Linked DNA regions of Homo sapiens. The protein of the gene in region 2 interacts with the protein of the main gene of each other region in a pairwise test. Each region holds a gene or a part of one and is shown on either strand. Other genes may lie near its edges.

What was found.
Region 1: the proteins of PSMB1 (region 2) and RPRD1B interact in binary tests that used the Homo sapiens proteins (3 or more experiments, as listed by UniProt).
Region 3: the proteins of PSMB1 (region 2) and POMP interact in binary tests that used the Homo sapiens proteins (3 or more experiments, as listed by UniProt).

What each region holds. Positions count from the first base shown.
Region 1 is NC_000020.11:38,043,641-38,047,392, forward strand, and holds part of RPRD1B (regulation of nuclear pre-mRNA domain-containing protein 1B), read left to right. Parts: intron 1-3,752. UniProt on the Homo sapiens protein: Interacts with phosphorylated C-terminal heptapeptide repeat domain (CTD) of the largest RNA polymerase II subunit POLR2A, and participates in dephosphorylation of the CTD by RPAP2. Transcriptional regulator which enhances expression of CCND1.
Region 2 is NC_000006.12:170,539,677-170,543,428, reverse strand, and holds part of PSMB1 (proteasome subunit beta type-1), read left to right. Parts: intron 1-3,752. UniProt on the Homo sapiens protein: Non-catalytic component of the 20S core proteasome complex involved in the proteolytic degradation of most intracellular proteins. This complex plays numerous essential roles within the cell by associating with different regulatory particles.
Region 3 is NC_000013.11:28,661,999-28,665,750, forward strand, and holds part of POMP (proteasome maturation protein), read left to right. Parts: intron 1-411; coding exon 412-509; intron 510-2,510; coding exon 2,511-2,571; intron 2,572-3,752. UniProt on the Homo sapiens protein: Molecular chaperone essential for the assembly of standard proteasomes and immunoproteasomes. Degraded after completion of proteasome maturation. Mediates the association of 20S preproteasome with the endoplasmic reticulum.

The DNA.
Region 1 (3,752 bases), on a different chromosome or scaffold from region 2:
AATAGCTTCCATTTATTGAGTGCTTCCTTCGTGGGAGGATCCCCACCTCTCCAGTGTAAAACTGATAGGATTTATAGGCGTTGAGTGGGAGCTGGTAGTAAGTGAAAAGAGAAATCAAAGACGATTTCTAGGTTTTTGATGTAAGGAATGACTGATGGTGCCCTTTACTGAAGTGAAGATTGGGGAAAAGATTTGGTGGAGGAAATCACGAGTTTTGTTTTGGCCAGGCCGAGTGTGAGGTGGCTAGTGAATATTCCAAGGAGTGATGCCAAATAGGCAGGTGGATAAAATAGTCTGAAGCTCAGTAGAGACTTGATTTCTGGAGACATAAATTTGAGAGTTACCCACATGATATTTACTTATTGTTGTGGGCCCCAAGACCACTCCCAGGTTTGGTGATTCCCTAGAATGACTCACAGGGCTCATCATGTAGTCATAGTCATGGCAGTGATTCATTACAGCTAAAGGATCCAAAGCAGCAGCAGCAGCAGAGGGTGATGTGCATGCAGTACCCGCAGCAGACTGGAGCGCTCTGGGTATAAGCTTCCGAGTCCTCTCTCAGTGTTATTCCACAAACACGCTTAATTCCTCTAGCACTGAGTTGTGATGTGTATGATGTGTAACCTACCAGGAAAGCTCATTAAAGACTCTGTGCCCAGAGTTTTTATTGGATTGGTCATGTAGACACCCTCTGCCAAAATTCTAAGCTCCCAGAAATAAATCAGGTGTTCATTTTTTTTTTTTTTTTTTTGAGACGGAGTCTCACTCTGTCGCCCAGGCTGGAGTGCAGTGGCTTGGTCTTGGCTCACTGCAAGCTCCGCCTCTCGGGTTCATGCCATTCTCCTGCCTCAGCCTCCCAAGTAGCTGGGACTACAGGCGCCCGCCATGATGCCCGGCTAATTTTTTGTATTTTTTAGTAGAGACGGAGTTTCACCATGTTAGCCAGGATGGTCTTGATCTCCTGACCTTGTGATCTGCCCGCCTTGGCCTCTCAAAGTGCTGGGATTACAGGCGTCAGCCACCGCGCCAGGCTCAGGTGTTCATTAAGAACCGTATTGCTTGCACAAACAATTTAGGCCCAGTAAACCACCCTTACCAGTTAGGAAATGGTAGGGACACTCGGAAATCCCAAGTTCCCAGACCACTTCCCTAAGGGTAGCAGTCTGGCCTTCTGTGTTAACTCCTTTCTGAACCAGCTTTACATGAGGTACTGTTGGAAGTGTAGGGAATACTTAGAATTCCTGCCCTTAGTAGGCCTACCATAGGCCTGCTGTGCATGAGATAAGACAGAGTTGTACAAATTACTGTGGTTGTACTGAAAAAGTGCCATAGAACTGTAGAGGAAGAAAAGGCCCCCAAGGCTGGCTTTGCAGGGACTCAGGTGTCCAGCTGACACGTCAAGCAGCCAATTCTGTTTGTGTGTATCATATACATTTTTCACTCTTAAAGGTCAGTTTTGCTATCTGTATTGAAAAATAAAGTGATTGAATTTGTTATTAATCAGAATTAAAATATGAAGTGTTCAACGTAATATTAAGTTGTGTATGTAATTATTTGCCATCTTCCACTTTATTCATAGATTGTTGGCAAAGATTGTTCAGTCTTTTTTTCCACTTAAAGATTTCTCAGTTTAGATTGGAGTTAGTACAACCTGAAAATATTTCTCTTTCTGTTATAAAACGGCTTTATTACTTTGGTTGTATCTAATTCCAGATGCCAAAGTGACTTCCATTTCGCTGGAGCTACTTCCTTCAAAACCTAATCAGTAGAAAGATTTCTTGAATATTTTATGTATAACTTTGAAACTTATCTAGCAAAACTTTGATTTACCACAATGTTCAAGGAAATATCTGTCCTGGTTAGTTATATTCACTAATTAAACTAGAACCCCCCTTTTGGCCTTTAGTAGTAAAAGCCTTTTGAAAATGTTTTGTGGTTATAACAGGTTTGAGCATCATTTTCCACTGTGCCTGAAACTGTACACAAAACCAGTCTTAGCCTGAATGGAGTCCCAAGTATCTCCAGGAATGGTGGGTGGTGGGTGTGTGTTGTGATACCCACCTACTTTTAAACTAAGTCCTTGATAAGAATTTATTCTCGAGACTGGTTTCTCTTTCTTTTAAGCGAACAGAGAATCTGCAGCAAACAGATTTTATGCTAAAAGTACCAGCTAGTTCATTAACTAAGTTCTGATTAGTTGCAATTTGGTTTTACTAATTATAATGACTTTATTTTTCTAAGCTATACATTTGCTCACATTAGGGACCTCCCATTGCCTGCAGGCCACGTGCTTTAATATGGCATTCAGGGCTCGCTGTAATTGAATTCCACCCTCCTTCCAGATTCTTCTGCAGTTTCCGCACATTCCCCCATATACTTCAGCTACTTGAATTACTCCTTTCCCTTTGCCTTGTTCAATTTTGGCTATTCCATTTGAAGGAGAAGAGATAGCATGAACAAAGGCACATGCACATGAGAGAACAAATTCTGAGTAGCAAATACATACGGGTGGGTGTTGCTGGAATGCAAAGTTCCAGGTAGGGTAGGGAAAGGAGACTAAAAACAGGTCTGAGGGATTGCTGAGTCGAGCCCTAGAGGTCAGGACCCAGGCCTTCTTATTCTTTGTAAACCTTCATTGGTCGAGCTGAGGAGTGCTTAGTTGATTTCTGCCATGACCTTGATACAGTAAGATGATTGTTGAAAGTTAAGTAACTGTATTACTTACCGAAACCCATATACATTTTTCTGGAAAAGATTACAATTTGACAGATATTCATTGTGCTTGTTCAAGGGCATATAGCAATGGGAGAAAATGACAAATCTGCACCCCTGTGGAAATTACATTCAAATGGAAAGCGTGTAAACAAAAAGTAAACTATTGAATATACAGCATACCAGAAAAGTTGTATGGAGAAAAATTGAGTAGGGGCAGGGAGTGTTATTTTCAACGTGGAGATTAGGGAATGACACACTGAAGGTGGTGTAACTAAACATACCCCTGAAGGAGGAGAGGAATTGAGCTGTGTGGCCACATGGGGAATGTGGTTCCAGGCAAAGCAAACTTTTGAAGTGCTAAGGCTCTGAGGCAGTGCTAGGGTAGCTGTTGTTGAGGCAGGAGGTTGGAGGACGGGGGTGGGGAAGAGTGGGTAGGAGATGAGGCCAGGGAAATAACAGCTGGGTTGGGAAAGGCCTTGGAGTCTTTATAAGGACTTTTATTCTGAGGGATACTGGGAAGAAATGTTGGCAATTTTGAACAAAGGAGTGACGTGGTCTGCCTTAGTACAGCAGCTAAAATTGTATTTTGAAAACTCGAGAACAGGTTGTAGGAGGACAAGGGTGGAAGCGAGGAGACCAGTAATGAGGCTACTGTAGTAATGCAGGCGAGAGATGATAGTGCCTTGGGCCAGATTGATAGCAGAGGAAAAGATGAGAAATAACTCATTTCCGGATATATTTTGAAGGTGGAGTAAAAGTGTTTTATCACAAATACCAAGTAATTGGGTCATATTTTTAAGCTTTATAAAATTAGCAGTAGAAATGTTTTTCCTTTTTTTTCCCGAACCCTCACTTCTGACTTTAAAAAGTTTAACAAAAAAAGAATTAATTTTTATGTACTCTGATTGAGTCCTTTAGTCAGTGAAATTTACCACTAATAATTCATAAGTGAGACATTCTGACTGGGCTAGGCTGAAACCTAAGTTCTCCTTGAGTTTATGAAAGCGTTGTCATGGTCGGGTGTGAATAGAGTTCCC
Region 2 (3,752 bases):
ACATTGAAGCTCTAATAGTGAATGTTGAGCAGCCAGTTATTTTGCTATTTTCTCAGGAACTTGCATGAGTTAGTAGTAAATAATTAGGCATTTTTATCTTATAGAAAGAAATCGGACCTAGAAAGCTTGACCTAAATGTGATTCTGAGTATTGAAAATTTTTTTATTAACAAATACACTTCAAAAAAGTTCTTTAACGGTTCTAGAAGTCATTTGGGGTAATTAATAATAAGCATCTACTCCAGTGTTTTCAGAACTTTTTGAAACACCTCTCTGATTTTGTCAGAGTCAGACCAGGATTCCCTGAGAATATTAAGTCTTGTTACTTAATATTCCATCCCATTTTTGTTCCAGAGCTGCATTACGCCACATGGGCACCAATGTTTTCCATCCAAATGTTCCAATCCATTTGTTCTCATTTGCAATCCAAATGTTCTCATTTGGATTGGCTTTTGGTTGCATCTAAAAATCAAATACAAGTACAGTGTCCCAGGACAGATCTTTGTCACTTAGAGTAGTCCATTGACACAGATGGATAAGTAGTCCATCTGTGTCATTTAGAGTAGTCCATTGAGATAAGAAGTTACAGAAGTGTCTAGATGAGGATATCATTGGAGTAAGCCCATCTTCTGTGTTCCTTCTGGCTGAACCTGTGGCTGAAGTTGCCCTAAAAGTAGGGGCAGAGGAATTCCTGTAAGGGACTGCCCCGAACCTAGTTGGGGTTCCAGAACACTAAATCTCAGGGTAATCAGTCAAAAGCATTTAGTGCTGCAGCAGTCCTCTCAGCAGACAGCAGGAAAAGATGTGTCCAAGGTGAGGGAGTTGATTTGAGTGTTGAAGGAATTTGGTTCAGGGCCAGGGATAGTTTCTGTGTGTTTAGCAACAGGGGTAATTTCTCAGTGTTTCAAGCAATAGCCTAAACAACATTGTCAGCGCCTGGGAATGTTCAAGGCAGGCCTTGGCTTGGGTCAGAGCCTCCAGGGGAATACATGCGGCTGGCCACATCACAGAACATCTCAGTTGGACACAGAAAGAAAGCAAGGGGACTGGGGACCCTAAATCCTGTGAGGGAAAATTCTAAGAGGAAAGGGTCAAGCTTCATTTCAGCGCCCTGCCTCTCGGTTGTTGACTCCTATCGCTTTCTGTTCCATGAGCGTTTTCTTTGCGTGCGCTATCTCTGACTCTTAACATCCGCCCCCATACACAGCCTTGGGGAACATTCTGATCATTTTACCTGCCATGGTTTAGGCGTAGACAAATTAGGTTGACACAATTTCTTTTTAAGGCTTTCAACCTTACTTGAAAACCAAGAGAAAAAGTAAAGTGTAGAAATAGTAAAAATAGAAATGAATTACCTTTAACATGGGTAATTAGAGTCTAGCTACAAATTAATTTGCCTAACTTAGCAAGCTGGATGCTTCTGGTGTCTTTTTTGACTTACATTATGCCTGGCTTTAATGTCAGATTAATAGATTCAGATTTTAGCAACATTAAAAATAGCTGAGCTGCCATTGAATTTCAGCAGGCCAGACAGCATCCTTTGAGTTTTTCCGAGAGTTAGAGAGTCTAATCTGGGAAAGCTGATACCTACTAAGCAGCAGACCTAAGATTCAGGTTTGGCTTTTGTTTCACTTCAGAGCCCTGTTCTTTGATTTCCATGTAACAGTGTTGCTAGTTTTGGTGACAACCTCAGGTGTCTCTAGAACTGTCTTTCTAAGCTTGTCTGTCTGGTTGGCTTTTAAGTGTTCTTTAAACTAATTTTTATTTTATAGAGGAATTTGTGTGAATAATAAAGCAGTCCTCTATCTTTTTTTTCCATTGCCCTAAGACAGTTTTCAGCTCTTTTACCTGTATTTCCTGGTACTTACCTCCATTTTCCAAAACTCTGTATTTGTACTGCACTCTTTTGAGATATCTTTTGGTGTTTTGTTCTGGTAGATGATGGTTCTTAGCTCTTTTGTGTCCTCTTCCTCATTAGCATCCTCCTTTAACACATTACACTTTTGGTAACATAGACCTTTAATGTTTTTATTATGACCAGATAGATATTGATCTTTGTTGCGCCAAGTAGCATGCATTAATATTTTCTTTCTTGTGTAACTCGTTTTTATTTTTTTCTTAAGTTAACTATCTCTAATTGGCTCAGATTTCTTTAAACTTTTTGTCAGTTCCTTGTACATTCTCTGAGTACAATTCATCTGGTTGTCAGACCTCACATACTAGGTGGATCCCTTTTCCCCTTGCTCCAGGATGGACCACTGCCATCCTGAGATTCCCCCACATCCTGTGTTCTCCTCTTTCTTGATTTATTTCCTTATTTTAGAGGCTTACCTCCTAAAAGATTTCTGAAAAAAACAAAACGGGACCTTTTTGAGACTTTGCTTTTAGGATCTTTTCTTTACCCTGGTGTTCTGAAATTGTATAGTGATGTTCCTTGCCTAGAGTTTCTTATTTGTTTTATCCTCTTTCTCCACCTTCTTTCCTCTCCTCCTCCCCTACCCCTCTGCACCTTCTCCACAACCACCTGGATTATGACCCGGTACTTTATTTTTGACTCCCCATGTTATCCATGTCTGTCTTTTTTGTTCTACTTTATGAAGATTTCCTTAATTTTAGCTTTTCATCCTTTACTGATTGCTTTTATTTCTGGTGTCATTAATTTCCAAGAGCTTGTACTTATTTTTTGTCTTTTTAAAAAAAATCCTGTTTACTTTCTTTGCAGTTTTCTGTATTTCATCAGAATGTTTTTTTTTTCATGTTATGTGTTCATTTTTGGCCTCTGTCTTCTATGTTAGAGGCTTCCTTCAAATCTCTGATTTTTTTTTTTTTTTTTTTTTTTTTGCTGTCCATTCACATTGAAGAGTCTTGTACCAAAATTTGATTATGAAAGTCCTTGTTGACATGGCTTGTCAACTGACAGCCGTTAACTGGGTGCTTAAGTAAGCAGCATTTTCTTCAGATGAAGAATTTCTTTAATCTTTTTTCCTGAGGTGAGGTGGGACTACAGGAAGAGAAGCCCGGTTGGCAGCTTTTTAGGCCTCAGAGGAGGAAGGGGGCTGAAGGTCTGTGTTTTGTTTACATCAACTTTCCATTTCATGTGTTTTGCTCCTACCCTTTGCCACTCTAGAGCCTGGTCCCCTAAGTCCAGAGCCTCTGCTAATGTCTCAGGAGACTTCCTTTACTGTCTTCTGTGTTGGTGGATGCAGGGACCTGGAGAGCAGTGCTCCATATTGAAACCTTCAGGACAGCAAGGTCCACAGCTCTTTCCCTTGGTGTCAACCGCTGTCTGCACTAACCTCTCTGTCTTTAATCTCTTAGCTGCTCTCATGCCTTTTAAAAATTTTTCTCCCAAATTAAAAGTGGCTTTAGTTTTTCTGTAGTGAAAACAATCAGTACATGTTTATACATACACTCATGCAGTTTTATGTAAGTAGGACTTTGGTATCTGTTTTTCTGTAACTATACATTATGTATTATCAAGGAGATCTAAGCTATATGCATAATGATTTTTGTATTTAATTAACAAAAAATTTTTTTGTCTTCTGTTTTTGCTGCTGTAATACATAGCATCATTTACCTAACCAGTCCTCTAAAGGGCATTTTGGCTTCCTGTTTTCTTAATATAAACACTATGATGAACATCCTTGTACATACATTTTTGTGTACTTCCCCAATTATGCTTGTCTTGCTAGAATAAACTTCGAGTAGTTGAAGTATTGGGTCAGATAAATTTTTTTTTGTATTTTGTTGAGT
Region 3 (3,752 bases), on a different chromosome or scaffold from region 2:
ATAAAACCCATATTTCTTTGCACATAAGATGTTTCACTTTTGTATTTCATCAGCCTTTACTTCTGCCTCACTGGAAACATATTTAGCCAGTTATCTCAAACTACCTGAAGCTTGTTCATTTATATTTTCTTGCCTTTATTCATGTTATTTTTTCCTGGAATGCCTTTCAAACTGACAGCATTCAGAGATCACCTCAGGAATCCTTCCCACATCTAAATTTGGTATTTTCATTGTACCATGTGTGTCTCTATCATATCATAATGTTTAAGGCTTGCTGTAATTGTCTAGTCTGGACTTTTTGAGGGCCTCTTATTTTTCTGTCTCCTACTTAAACAATATTTTTGACACAGCTGCCTGGGTGTGTGTTTAAATTTTTTTTCTATTTAATAATGTTTTTTATTTGTGTTGTAGAATGCCAGAGGACTTGGATCTGAGCTAAAGGACAGTATTCCAGTTACTGAACTTTCAGCAAGTGGACCTTTTGAAAGTCATGATCTTCTTCGGAAAGGGTATATGGGGGAGTTATGACTTTGATTTTGTTATGTTTCTGTGAATTTTCACAATATTCTTTAAGTATTTTGATAGGCTATACATGTGTATTTAGTTGGCAGATGGCAAGTAATATACCTTACATGGGGTGCAGAGGGGAAGAGGCTTAGATATTTTCTGTAGTGGAAGAGGTGTCTCATCAAAGTAGTAGGTTCCCAATTAGAGCATCCTCCTAGGCAGTGGTGCCCATTAGCATGATTTGGTAGGATTCTTTTTATTTATTTTTTTGCTACTGATAACTTAGCCATTTGCCTTCTTGTCTTAACTATTAGGGTAATTCACTTTTCTTTGGGAGGCACTAGAACATAGCAGTTGAGAGATTAAACTCTGGATTCAGTCGGCCTGGGTTTGGATCGTGGCTCTGCTCTTTACTAGATGTGTGCCTTTGGACAAATCACATAATTAATGTCTCAGTGTCCTTATGGATAGAATAGGCCTAATAATAGTCTGTATCTTCTTTTGAGGAATAAATGAGTTAATACCTGAAAAATATTTTAAATGGTACCTGACATTAGAAGCACTCAGTATGTATTGGCTACCATTTTTTTTCTTTTCTAGCTTTAGCATGCAGTTACGCCATGTTTTTGATTTCCTTTTTGTTTCTGTATGTTTAGGTCTCAGTTTCTGGTACTAGACCATACTCTTTGCAGGTCACTTTTCTGCTTAATAAAATAAGGATAACGACCTTTCCCCCATAAACATTTTGTGTTTTGAATTTTTGAATTTTACATCTAATTTTAAAGTATTTACTCTTATTTTTTGTTTATTTATTTATTTTTTGAGATGGCATTTTCCTCTTGTTGCCCAGGCTGGAGTGCAATGGCGCGATCTCCCCTCATCGCAGCCTCCGCCTCCCGGGTTCAAGTGATTCTCCTGCCTCAGCCTCTTGAGTAGCTGGGATTACAGGCATGTGCCACCATGCCCGGCTAATTTTGTATTTTTAGTAGAGACGGGGTTTCTCTGTGTTGGTCAGGCTGGCCTTGAACTCCTGACCTCCAGTGATCCGTACACCTTGGCCTCCCAGAGTGCTGGGATTACAGGTGTGAGCCACTGCGTCTGGCCGTAATTTACTCTTACTATAATAGAATGGCATTCTAATGCTGGTGTCTGAGTACAAATATAATCCCTCATTACAGACTTTCAGTTTTGTAGTAAAAAAATGCAGCATATAGCCTGTGAAATTGGAGATATAATTTGATATTTATAATCAAGTTGATTGGCTAGGCAGTAACTAAGGTCTGAAGATTTTTTTCCCCCCACATGAAATGTTCCTTCTTCTTCCTGATTGGACTGGGGCAGGACCATTTTCAAAACCCACTTCCTGGATAATGTTTTGTAAAAAGACAATATTCAATAAACAATTGTTGCAGGGTTTCTAAGGTTTTTATTAGCTTTAAAATCCTAGTTTGGATAATAAGGTAGTCATCTTTATATAGCTAGAGTGATAAAGACCAGTGGCCTGGTTCTAGTTGTGCCTTACCTAACATACTTTATACATAGTAGGTGTTCAGTAAATGTTAAACCTATTGTTCAACATGTTTATTAAAGATATATTAAATATTGAAAGTGTTAGACCTGAAGGGAATAGGCTTAGTTTATATAGTGCAAGAAGTACCTCATCAGAGTAATAGCAATAAACATACATTCATTAAATTTCTTCTAGATGTGGCACCAGATTTTGGCAAGTTTTCCCTAGTGATTGAAGTCTTGACCACCAATGTCTATAATGGATACATTCTTACATTATTATATATACCTTTTTTTTTCCTTTTGGTGTGTAGGTCTATGAATTTTTAGCACATGTATCAATTCCTATGACTGTCACCACAGTCAAGATACAGAACAGTTTTGTCACCCCAAAAAACTCTCTCATGCCATCCCTTTATAGATATGATTTTGAGCTCTGGGTATTGAGTGATATTTAATCTCCTCTAAATGTTTTTTTTTTAATGTCCTTTCAGTTTTTCTTGTGTGAAAAATGAACTTTTGCCTAGTCATCCCCTTGAATTATCAGAAAAAAATGTAAGTATATTATTATGTCCTTATTTTTATCTTCTAATAGATAAATACTTTTACTAATATTGGTTTCATTTTATTAAAACAATTTTGGTACTGAGGATTTGCCCATGAAGAATATGAGGCGTTATTTTCAAACCCCTTGTAGGATAGACTTAAAAATTACACTGCTCCTCTAAAGCTCCCTTTCTATGCGTTCTTACCTGCCTTTTTAATGTACGTCTCCAAAGGGTGATCCACTTCTCCATTCCTCTCACAGGAATTTTCTCTTTCAATAATGCTGTTTCTTTTATATTTTTCCTGCCATTTTTGCTGTTGACTTCCAAGTTCATATCTCTAGTTTTGACCTCTTTAAGTCCTGCATCTCCGAGTTACTGTAGGACACAGCCACTAGGCACAGTAGGTACTTCGATGAATATGACATCATCCCCATCCTTAAATAACTTAAAATTTAATGAGGAAGACAAGCAGTGGGTAGGAGAAGGCTTCGTAAAATGCTAGAGAAGACCAAGGATGTGACAGCCACCTGTGCTTAGGGCTTTTTTGGAAGGCTTTATAGAAGAGGAGGGACCTTTGAACAGTTTTAGACCAGAAAGTTTACTCCTAAAGAGAGGATAGCATGTATACATGTCCAAAACACAATTTAAAGGATTCTTAAATAAACATTTAGAGGAAGAAGAAAAAGGTTTCTGACTACTTGGGGAAGATGATGCAGTTGTTAGGTAACAGAAAACTGATCTGTATTTTGTTTTTGTTGTTTGTTTGTTTCGCTTTCTAATAAGAGGATAGGTCTGCCTATAAGAAAGAGTAGAACAAATAATGTAATTATGAAATTGAAGTTCAAATTAGATGAGAAAAATAAAAAAATTCCTCATCGATTTAAGTGAATTCAGGTTTCAGGTGCAGAAGTTGACAGCCCAGAGTACACTTATAAGTATGTGAGTATGATTATAAAAGCACAGTTGATCATCTTTGAGAACTAATGGGAGAAATGAAAATTGGTTATAGATGGATACATATTCCACTTTTGTATAAAGGATCTAACTAAAAAATAAGATTGTCTGTGGTAACATTGATCCCTGAAACTGTTTCTTAAGTGGACTATTGAGTGAGCTGTGAGCATTTAATAGGGTAAGCAGTGATCATCAGCATCTGAATGAACTCAGCAAATTAATTTTAGTTCACTC